3 linked regions of the Homo sapiens genome follow. The protein of the gene in region 2 purifies or fractionates together with the protein of the main gene of each other region. This does not show direct contact. Each region holds a gene or a part of one and is shown on either strand. Other genes may lie near its edges.

Region 1 (3,657 bases), on a different chromosome or scaffold from region 2:
GCAGCAAGAGGAAGAGTCCTGTCAGTCCAGCAGATCTGAAGGGGATGACTGGTGGGATGAGGAGCAGTTGCTGAGTTTAGGCAGCACTCAGCCAGGGCAACCTCCTCTGTCTTAGCACCATTTCTCCTTTCCTCTTGCCTCTTTCTTCTCTTTCTACTCTTGATTCCTCTTGGATCTCAGGATTTCTCTCCTGTACCTTAACTGATCATAATATAAAATTGAAAAGGAATCAGTAAACACTGGTTAAAATTTTATGTTTAATCTTCTGAATTTTTAAAAAAGAAGCCAAGGTGAACTTTTCTCTTTTAATCCCTCAAAGATTCCTAGTATTGGACATAATAAAACAAAGTGGTATTAGTCTAGACATCCTGTTATATGAGAAGCCTGGATGAATATCTTTTTCTTGCCCAATGTCTTAATATTCAAGGTCACTATTTTCTCTGCTGCTCTCTTTCTGACAAGACAGCCAAGGGTCTTGATTAGGATGAGAAACCAAAGAACAAAAAGATCAAGCCAGTTAAAGTGCATGTTATTAGAAATGTTGCCAGTGACCTTAAAGAGCAACATCCTTTTCTGTTTTCCTGGTATAAGCACAAATTTTATCATCAGCTCTGAAAAGCTTACAAAATCAGTAAGAACAAGAAAGCAGACCTAGTCGAGGGAACTGTGTGTGTGAGAGCACAGCTCATGATTTCTGCACAGGATCTCCAGTGATGGGGTGTGTCTGTTCAGTCTGCCATATGTCCATCCTCCCATGGGGTTCCCCATAGGGATAAAACCACACATTTGCAAGACACCTGGCTGAGAAGCAGCTCTGAACCAGGGTTTTAATTTGGGAACTACTTACTGGTCCATAATGAGACTAAATACAGGGTCTTGGCCTAATTTGTATCAGACTCTTAAATATTGCAGTTGTTTATGCAGCGGAATGCTGTGATAAAACGGCTACAACAAGCAGCATTCACCAATTACACCACATGCAGCACCACAATAATCAACTACACCGTAAGCAGCACCACAATAAACGCTACTTATATCTAATTAACAACAAGATGCCCGAAGTTTACAATGAAAAGCAAACTAAAATATTAAGAAACTCTATCCAAATGCATTTTATTCAGCTGAGCTCTTTACATCTTTTTCCTCCTCTTTTATTGTTAAATTTAATTAAGATACTGAATTCTTAAGAAGGAAGAGGCCAGAAGGAGAGACTGTAAAATTTACAAAAATGTTTGGAGGGTGTTAAGTGGATTCCGATAGACACTATGGGGTATTCCTGTGAGGTAGGCACTGGGGAGATGCCTGAAGAGAAAGTTACAGGGGCAGTCCAGATTCCCTCAATGTGCAGAGGGAGAGAGGAGAAAATATTCTTACAAAAGATTGCACAAATCTAAGTCCACCATTCCTGGAAAGCCAAATGCCTTCTTAATTCAAAATTTCAGGTGAGAACCAAAGAGATGGATTCTATTACCCTGCTTTTGTTATCTTCTAACCAAATGTCTCCAGTGCCATGATCCATTTTTGCTTTAAACCACCCTTTCTTATCCTGCTTAAATTTTTCTGAACATTTCTGTGGAAGGCATGTCAAAGTCAATACTGCTGAGGTTTGTTTAAGGTTAGTGTGTGTGACAGACCAATCTGATCAGTCTCTGGGATTCAATCCTTACTACCTCCTCTTCTGCCTCTTCCTGGTACTGTTCATCAACATTGTCCTCCTGCTGGTCTGGATTTCCTGCCATCTGTTGGAAACAAAAGGGCAGGTTCATGTTACTGTACATCAGAGATGCCTTTTACACAGTACTCTGGGACAAAGAACAAGCATGCCACCATGAAAAGGGCACTTTCAAAGCGTCTGTGGCCAGGAAATGATGAGTAATCATTCCCAATACAAAGCCCAGGATGTCCGTTACCCTCTCTCTCAGAGTACAGGCATATCATGTCATAAAGTGGCCTAAAAACCACCGAAGTGGCAAACCTTCCGTCAATGTGGAATATGACTAACCTTTTACATAAACCAGATGTTTCTTAAAATAGCCCAGTTAAATCCACCCTTCCTCGTGGCATCTGCTTACCACCAAATGTTCCTCCACTTCTGTATTCTCTTGCTTTTGATTACTTTGTTTTTGCTCTTCATTTTCATCTGGCAAATTTTCTTCTCTCACTTGCTCGGCTTCTTCAAATTCATCCTCACCTTGATTATTAGGGTCATCTGCTGGGTTTATATCTTCTACAGCTGCCCTCTGTAAAATTTTAATAAAAAGCAACTATCACTTCAAAACTGAGGATCAAGTTTAATTTCATTTGAAAAGGCTGCCCACTGGCAGAAAATGAAATTGTCCTTCCCTCAATTGTTCAGATCTATCCTTGCCAAGACTCACAAGAATCAAGCATCACACTGTCAAAAGAGAAAACTCCTGCTTTACTTGTCAGAGGCTTGATGAATCAGAATGAGGTTCAAATAGCACTTCTTTCCTGCAAGTGATTTCAAAATAGTTCTCAAAACTCTACTGACACAAGTAATGTGAACAGAACTGAATAAACAAGAAAATAATTAATAAAAGTCAGAGGACCAAGTGACAAAAAAAATACTAATTTAGGTGGGGGATTTAGATGGGCAATTAACTCTTTTTGCTATGTTGATTTTTATAGTAACTTCCCTGTGCAAGCAATTTTTAACATGTCAGCAGGTGAAAAGTTGTTGATGGGAAAGAAGGCCCATACCAGAAAGGACCCATAAAAAGGATACGAAAAGGAGACAAGAAAAAGGCTAATTCAAAAGGAAATGGTCATTTTCTAGTATGGATCCAATTTCTTTATTAACAATCATTCCCATGAAACAGAGAGATGCTGAACTGGCGAGGGATGGGAGTTAAAAAGGGCTGAGCTACCCAACTGCCCAATAGGGCAATATATTATGAAAAATGTCCTCCCAACTCATCTCCCAAATTACTGTGCTCAACAAAGGCCCTTCATATTATCAACTTTAGAATTATTTCAATTTTCCACTTAAGCTCCCAAAGCACCTTCCAAATAATACACATCCTAATAAAGATTTAGATTTTAGAGCCTGAGATGGAGAGGAACAGTGATGCTTGTCATGAGCTTCCCCAATCACTCGCAGGTCATCAATAGGACACTTACTAAGCTGTAAATGCTTCTAAGAGACAGTAAAGCCACAGAGTAGGATTTGGTCTCTATCAGTATTCTCCAGACAAGATTCTACTTCAATTCACTTAGGAGTCTTGAACATGTTTGAGAGTTCACTGCCATCTCAGCTGATCTATTATCTGCACATCCCTGGCCATGAATGTTACTCCAGTGCAAATGACACTATTCTTGGGAACGTAGAGACTACCAAATTACCACCTTCACACTAAACTCTAATTACTCCACAATCTCTTGTCATATGGATTTTCTTTAGTGCACTATCAAAAATTTGTATGGAATTACAGGAAAAATGTAACATATTCTTTTCAGAAAAAAGTACCAAATATCTTTTGCAAACGTTCATAAAATTGACTAGCTCAACTCCGACCACGTAACAGGTATGAATTAGCAGGCACAGTTGTTACGTTCAAATAAAACAGAAAGAGAGGAACAAGTGGGATTAACCATTTCTAATTAAAAGGAAGAATGGTACAAAGGCCAATGTTTCCC
Region 2 (3,657 bases):
TGTACGAAAGCTTCTATATCTCTAAATCCCCCTAATTGCTTGATACTGTCATATTTACCTTAAGACAATTTGAACAGGCCAAATTGGCATCCTGTTATTTGAATATGTATTTGCCTGATTACTAGTGAGTATGAAAATTTTTTCATGTTTTTATTGGCCAATTGGGTCTCTCTTCCTTTCAACTGCCTATTCATATCCTTTGATCAGATAGGATTAGGGTTATTGACCTTTTATTTGACTTGTACATTACAATTATATGTGTGTGTATGTTTATATAGTGTGTGTATGTTTATACATAGCTAGATATACACATTTATATATAAATGTTGTTCATAGGGCCTTTTGTTAAAATAAATTTTTCAACTTTAATACAGTAAAATTTGTCAAACATTTATCCTTTCTGGTGTGAGTTTTTTGTGTCTTGTACTATAGAAGAAAACTTTCCTGGTTCTTATGTCACATATATTCTTCTAATAGTTTTAGATTTTTGTTTTTTACCTTTCATTATTTAAAATTTATTTGTGTTGGTTTGTGTCCTCTGAAACAAAAATAATTATTTGTATATGGTGTGAGGTAGACATCAGCTTATGTTTTTAACCAGCTCACAAGTATTAGTACTGCTACTAGTGTAGAATTTACTATGATAAAATTACACATCAGAAAGAAAAAGGTTTTAAACCTTTACATTCAAATCTTGGCTTTTGCTATTTGTAATAATAAAAAATTGGAAACAATATCTAACCATAGGGAACAGATAAATTGTTTATTCATAATGAAATACCATATTTCTGAAAAGGATACATCTCATAAATATCAGTATTAATAAAAAAAATTTTAAACATCTATTGCCCTTTTCTCCCCAACACAGTCAAACTTCTTGAAAAGGCTGAATGTGACCTCTTTTTTTTCCTGACCACCTAAATCTCAAACAACTTAAACCTTATTGTCATTACTTCATAAGAAAGTAAAGACAGTTAACAGTGCAAAATCTAATAGCTATTTTTTAGTCTTCATTTTCTAAGCAACCTAAGCTTCCTGGGCTAAGTCATCCTCCCACCTCAGCTTCCCAAGTAGCGGGGACCACAGGTGCATGTTTACCACATTCAGCTAATTTTTGTATTTTTTGTAGAGCGGGGGTCTTGCCATGTTGCCCAGGCTGGTCTTGAACTCCTGGGCTCAAGTCATCTACTCACCTCGGCCTCCTAAAGTGCTGGGATTACAGGTGTGAGTTGCTGGGCCCAGTCGCCTTCTCCTTTTTATTTTTATTTCTTTTTAGACAGAGTCTCGCCCTATCTATCGCCCAGGCTGGAGTGCAGTGGCGCGATCTCGGCTCACTGCAACCTCCACCTCCCGGGTTCAAGCAATTCTCCTGCCTCAGCCTCCCAAGTAGCTGGGATTACAGGCACACAGCATCATGCCCAGGTAATTTTGTATTTTTAGTAGAGACAGGGTTTCACCATGTTGGCCAGGCTGGTCTCAAACTCCTGACCTCAGGTGATCCACCTACCTCATCCTCCCAAAGTGGTGGGATTACAGGCATGAGCCACCATGCCCGGCTGCCTTCTCCTTTTTAATAGGCTGTTATCACTTGGCTTCTATGAACATTACTGCTTTCATTTTTCACCTACACCTCTGACCAATGTTGAACAGTCTCTATCTGATCACTAAATTTTGGAGTTACTCAAAACTTGGTCCTCAGCTGTCTTTTCTTCTCACTCTATACTTTCTATCCTGGCAAGTTTCATCATATCTGTGGCTTCAGTTATTACCTAATATGCAAAAGCCTCAACAAATTATAGCTCCAAATCCACATATGTAACTCGAACCTTTATAAATCTACATGGACGTTTCAAAGACACTCAACTAAGTAGGTTTAAAACCAAATTCATAACATTTCCCATGAGCCTTGTCTACTACCTACTAAATCCTTAGTGTTCACAATCTCAGTAGGTGGCACCACCTTCCCACCAAGTATGTAAGTCTGAGAAATAGGCATTGTTCTTTACACCCTATTCTTCCCCTTTATTTAATCTAACAATTGTCCACTTTGTGTTTCTTGAATCTGTTCATTTGTCTTAATCTCCATTGACACCTCTATAATTTAAGATGTATACCATCTCTTATGCGAACTACTGCAATGCAGGAATAGGTCACCCCTATATACTCTAACCCTTCTCTGATCCATTTCTTGCCATGTAGCCAGAGTATTACTTGCTTTTCTTTTTTCAAAAGAAAATCTGAACATCTTACCCCTTGTATAAAACTCTCCAGTGCCTTCTGTGAAGCATTCACTGTCTTTAAAGTCAAAAGACACGTTTGCAACAACACGGATGTTCCTGAAGCCTGGTATGCTAAGTGAAATAAGCCAGGTGCAGAAACACAAATACTGCATGATTTCACTCCTATGTGGAACTTAAGAAAGTTGACCCCACTGAATTAGAAGCAGAATGGTGGTAACCAGAGGCTGGGGTAGTTCCACAGCGGGGGGCAATTGTAGAGATACTGATCAAAGCATTCATATTAGAGTTAGATAGAAGGAATAAGTTCAAGAGCTCTGTTGTACAGCATGGTGACTCTAGTTAATGATGATATATTGTATTCTTGAAAACTGCTAAAAGGGTAGATGTTCAAATTTCTCATCACAAAAATGATAACTATGTGTAAGGTAATGCATTTGTTACTTAGCTAGATTTGAGCATTTCACAATGTATATAAACTGAAGAACATCATGTACACAATGAATACATAAAATCGTATATTAAAAAATAAATTTAAAAATGAAGTCACAGCTGGAAAAAAAAAACTCTCCAGTGCCTTTTCACCTACTAATCTAGACTAAAATCCTTAATGTGACTAACAAGGTCTTTTATAGACTAGCCTCTGCCTTCTTTTCTAAACCTGTCTCATAGCACTCCCCTTTACTTTGTAACATCTCACATCACTGGCCCCTTCTTTTATTCAAGTATCCCACTGCTATAAGACCTTTGTAGGCTCAATTCCTCTCTGCAGAATGTACTTGCAACCTATCTTCCACTCTCTCCTAACATTCCATTTCAAGCATCACTTCCTCAGGGACTATGCAGGTGAAGTCAGAAACGAAAACTTTTACTTCAGTTTGTAATTACATAGCTTTGTCTACGACTATTTGAATTAATGTCTGTCTCTGTCACTTCACCACAATTCCATGACAGCAGGACGGGGCATCTCCAACACCCATCAGAGTCTTATGCACTTAGTAAGGACTCAAATGTTTGCTGAATAAATTATTTAGAATTATCATTTCAAGGGTAAATGCAATATGCACTACAGCCACTAGAGGATGCCCTGCTTCTGTTTTTGTTCCTCCAGAACAAGATGTGAAGACTGAAAATACTTTAAAAAAAAAAAAACTAAACCTTTTATGATAAAGTAATTTACTATTAATGTAAATAAAATTGCAGTTATTACAAAATATCAGCATTCACTAACTACTTATTTTAATTAGTTTAATTGCTTAATACTAAATATTACTTAATACTTCTCTTTAAAGAAAATCACAATTTATTCAGATTTATTGAAAAAGAAATACCTCCAAAACAAACACATAACTATTAAAATTTTAAAAAGATATATGCATGTACCAATACAAGTTATCTAGTTTATCTGTGGATGTTTACC
Region 3 (3,657 bases), on a different chromosome or scaffold from region 2:
GAGGGTTTTGAGCAAAAGAGCGTATGATATAACTTGCATTTTTAAAGGATCACTCTAGCTACTGTATAGAAAACAAACAGGGAGGTTGGGGGATGCCTCTAGTAGGGAGATCAGTCAGAGACCATTATATCAATTCAGGCAAGGAGATAGAGACTTTGACCTGGGTGGTAATAGTGGAGATAGGGAGAAATGAACAGATTTTTGACATATTTTTTTAAAGTCAAAGAAGCAGAACTTGTTGGCAAATGCAATAATGCAATATGAAAGGAGTCAAGGATCAGTCTTAAGTTTTTGGCCCAAGTAACTGGAAGAATAAAATTGCCTTTTAGATGAAATTGCCACAAGAATGAGTATTGATAGAAAAGAAAAGAGACTGAAGAACTAAACCTTGAGACACATTAGCAATTAGAAATCAGAGAGATAAGAAGGACCCAAATGGAAGCTGAAAAGCACTAGCCAATGAGATAGGAAGAAAACTAGAAGAGTGTGATATCCCAGAAGCCAGGTGAAAAATGTTGCAAGACACGAGGTGGATCAAATGGTGGAGTAAAATGAAAACTGTTAATTGACCATTGGAGTTAACAATGTGGAGGTCATTGGTGACCTTGACAAGGAATAGTTCATTGGGGTCATTAGGGCATAAGTTCGATAGAAATGAGTTCAAAAGAGAATGTGAAGAAAAGGATTACCGCTAAGAATAGACAACTCTTTGGAGGACTTTTGCTGTGAAAAGGAAAAGGAAAGTGGCATGGTAGCTGGAAGAGGACTTGAGGTCAAGAGAAGGATTTTTTTTAGATGAGGAAAATTATGCCATGTTTGTATGCTGAGAATTGAATTGTGTGGTGAGGATTATCCAGCTGAGAAGGAAAATTTGATGGTATAAGGGAGAGACGGGAGAACTGGTAGAATTACATCTTTAAGCAAGAAAGTGGGGATGGGATCTCATGCACAGAAGGAGGATTTAGCCTTAGGGACATAGGCAGCCTAAGAAAACAGCAAGAAGGAAAGCAGATTATGTGGGCACAGATGGAGAAAGGCAGATAAATACAGGAAGAACAGGTTGTAGAAGCTCCTTTCTAATTGCTTCTGCACTAGGAAGCAAAGTTAGTTTTAACTGAGGATGGGGAAGAGATATTAGAAGTTTATAAAGAGGAAAAAGTATGAAATAGTTATCTGGAAGAGGAAAATGGTAAATTAACTGTGGAATTGATTGAAGGACAGCTCCAAAGGTACACTTAAATTTAGAAAGAATCCATTCATCTTGAATGCGTATTTTTCCGAGCTCCACATTCGGTTGCTGGGTTGTAGACATGAAAGAGGGTAAAAGGTGGATATAACCAAGAGTGGAATTTTGTCAGATGAATACAATGTGAGAGAGGGGCAAAGGAGTGACTGTATGATGGATCATGAAATTTATGCTTAGTTAGGAGGGAGGTGAGGCTTCGGAAGTGGAACAGAGAGCTGTGAAAGATGTTAAGATTAATTAACTATAAGGTCCTCTGGAGTAAAAATTATTAAAGTATTAAAGAGAGTAAGCTTAAAAGATAAGAGGTAGCGATCAGAAAGTCAGAGTAAGATGCTGAAATGCTTTAAACCGGAATAAGGGTACTTACTAGTTTGTTTAGTGGCTATATTAATTATTTTAATTGATTGATTTGTTAGGTTCATGATTACAAAGAAGGAACCCCAGAAGAGAAGACCTACTACATAGAATTATGGGATGTTGGAGGCTCTGTGGGCAGTGCCAGCAGCGTGAAAAGCACAAGAGCAGTATTCTACAACTCCGTAAATGGTAAAACATTTTTAAATTTCTATCTTATATTAATGGTCTAAGAGTATAGATCATCTGATATGTAATGCCATAGCATGCCAGACTCATCTTAATTTGAGAAAGATATAATGTACTCACAACCCTTGATTTAAATCTGCATAGTACATTCCAGTTTGCGTTTCTACATTGTAACCATCTAATTCAGAACATTAAACATTAAGTGTTTCTATTTATATTATTGTCATAAACTAAATATTGAGAAATAAAATCATATTTTTGGTACTTGACATAAAACATGGAACTTAAAATGTTGTCCTCTGGGGTTGCTCTGTCTCCAGTGAGTTGAGTAAGTACAGTAGGACCATAGGAGTCCCATAGTCTTAAGCCAGATAACACAGAGATAGAGGGATTTCTTTCATCTGCCCCTTAGAAAGAGCCCTAAGGCTCTTTCTCAGCTAGTTATAAAGAGCTGCTTAAGGGGGTCTTTATGGGTGCAGAAATTTTATCCAGTTATAGATATTCAAATACCTGGAGCAGACTTCCAGATGGAGCTGTGTAATATACGACATAATTTCCTTTCATAGAGTACCTACTCTGTGTCAAGAGACTAAACTGCTTATACCTGTGATTTGCCAATAGAGTTTCTTTCTTAGTCTTTTTAAAAATTCATTTTTAAAACCTGTTTTTACTGTGAAACATAATTTCAACTTCTGTTTGATTAATATACCAAAGGATTTGGCATTTCCCTCCTGGTAAATGCATAGCCATTAATAGACTTCATTTATGCTGTGCTTAGATCTCACTCAATATTAGGTAAGCATTGCATTTATTCAGTATGTTCATTCCTTATATTCCTCTTCTGATGTCTTCCCAGATCATGAGGTGTTGTAGACTCTACAAAAAGATGTAGAGAAGGTTCTTTTCATTGGATACATATTATAGAATACAGAATGAGATGTGTCAGTTCAGACCCATATCCTATTTAGCTCAGAATTCTATCTGAAAATGTCACAGTCTTAATAAAGAAACAAAGCATTCATAAATGAGACAAAAATAGTTATAAGATGACCTTGATATATGCCATCATCATGCAAAAAGGTATATACAATGGTATATATGAATAGAATGCATATAAATAAGAAAAACAACAATAAGACTAAGTATAGTGTGAGGTGACCTCTTAGAGAAGGAAGTGAAACCTAGTTTAGACTTATACTAGAGTGATCAACTTGTATCAGTAAAATTACTTGTCAAATTAAGATATCTATCTGATCTGGCACAGAGAAGTCTGAATATATAACACCTTTGATATTTAGGTATTTTTGAGACAGAGGTACAATAAAAATTATGAATAAATAATAGAGATAAATACCACTCAAATCCTAGAAGCTATGGAATTCTGAGTTGTAAACTTGTAAGTGCTGAAGAAGAAATCCATCTAATCTATATTTGTTTATCTTTTCTGTACCTACTATTCATTAGTGATTTGTCTCCTTTAATATTATTGAAAGAATTGCATATATCCTATGTTGATTTTGCAGATAAGACTGAAATATATTTCCATTTCTTAAAAGTAAAAAAAAAAAACTGCATTTATTGAAAAACCTATTTCTGTGTTCTTTCACCTTAGCTCTGGAACATTCTTCCTGGTAGAAGCACTCAAAGTTCTTTATTCCATCTACTATCCTTAGTTTCCTAAGAAACTGAACATAAGGATCACTCTATCCAAATGCACAGTCCATATTCTTAGCGATAACTTTCTTCCCTTAATACCCTACATTCTTCCCTCTCTAATAGCCTAGGCTAGTAATCCTTCAGAAGGAAATAATGAAGTGTCTTTACTTCTCTCCCTTAAGATTAAGATATATTATCATATCACCCTGACT

What was found.
Region 1: the proteins of PIGN (region 2) and GOLIM4 purify together in Homo sapiens (affinity purification with mass spectrometry; one large-scale study listed by BioGRID and IntAct). This does not show direct contact.
Region 3: the proteins of PIGN (region 2) and RABL3 purify together in Homo sapiens (affinity purification with mass spectrometry; one large-scale study listed by BioGRID and IntAct). This does not show direct contact.

The regions. Positions count from the first base shown.
Region 1 is NC_000003.12:168,022,856-168,026,512, forward strand, and holds part of GOLIM4 (Golgi integral membrane protein 4), read right to left. Parts: intron 2,241-3,657; coding exon 2,073-2,240; intron 1,740-2,072; coding exon 1,671-1,739; intron 1-1,670. UniProt on the Homo sapiens protein: Plays a role in endosome to Golgi protein trafficking; mediates protein transport along the late endosome-bypass pathway from the early endosome to the Golgi.
Region 2 is NC_000018.10:62,180,468-62,184,124, forward strand, and holds part of PIGN (GPI ethanolamine phosphate transferase 1), read right to left. Parts: intron 1-3,657.
Region 3 is NC_000003.12:120,707,915-120,711,571, reverse strand, and holds part of RABL3 (rab-like protein 3), read left to right. Parts: intron 1-1,662; coding exon 1,663-1,792; intron 1,793-3,657. UniProt on the Homo sapiens protein: Required for KRAS signaling regulation and modulation of cell proliferation. Regulator of KRAS prenylation, and probably prenylation of other small GTPases. Required for lymphocyte development and function. Not required for myeloid cell development.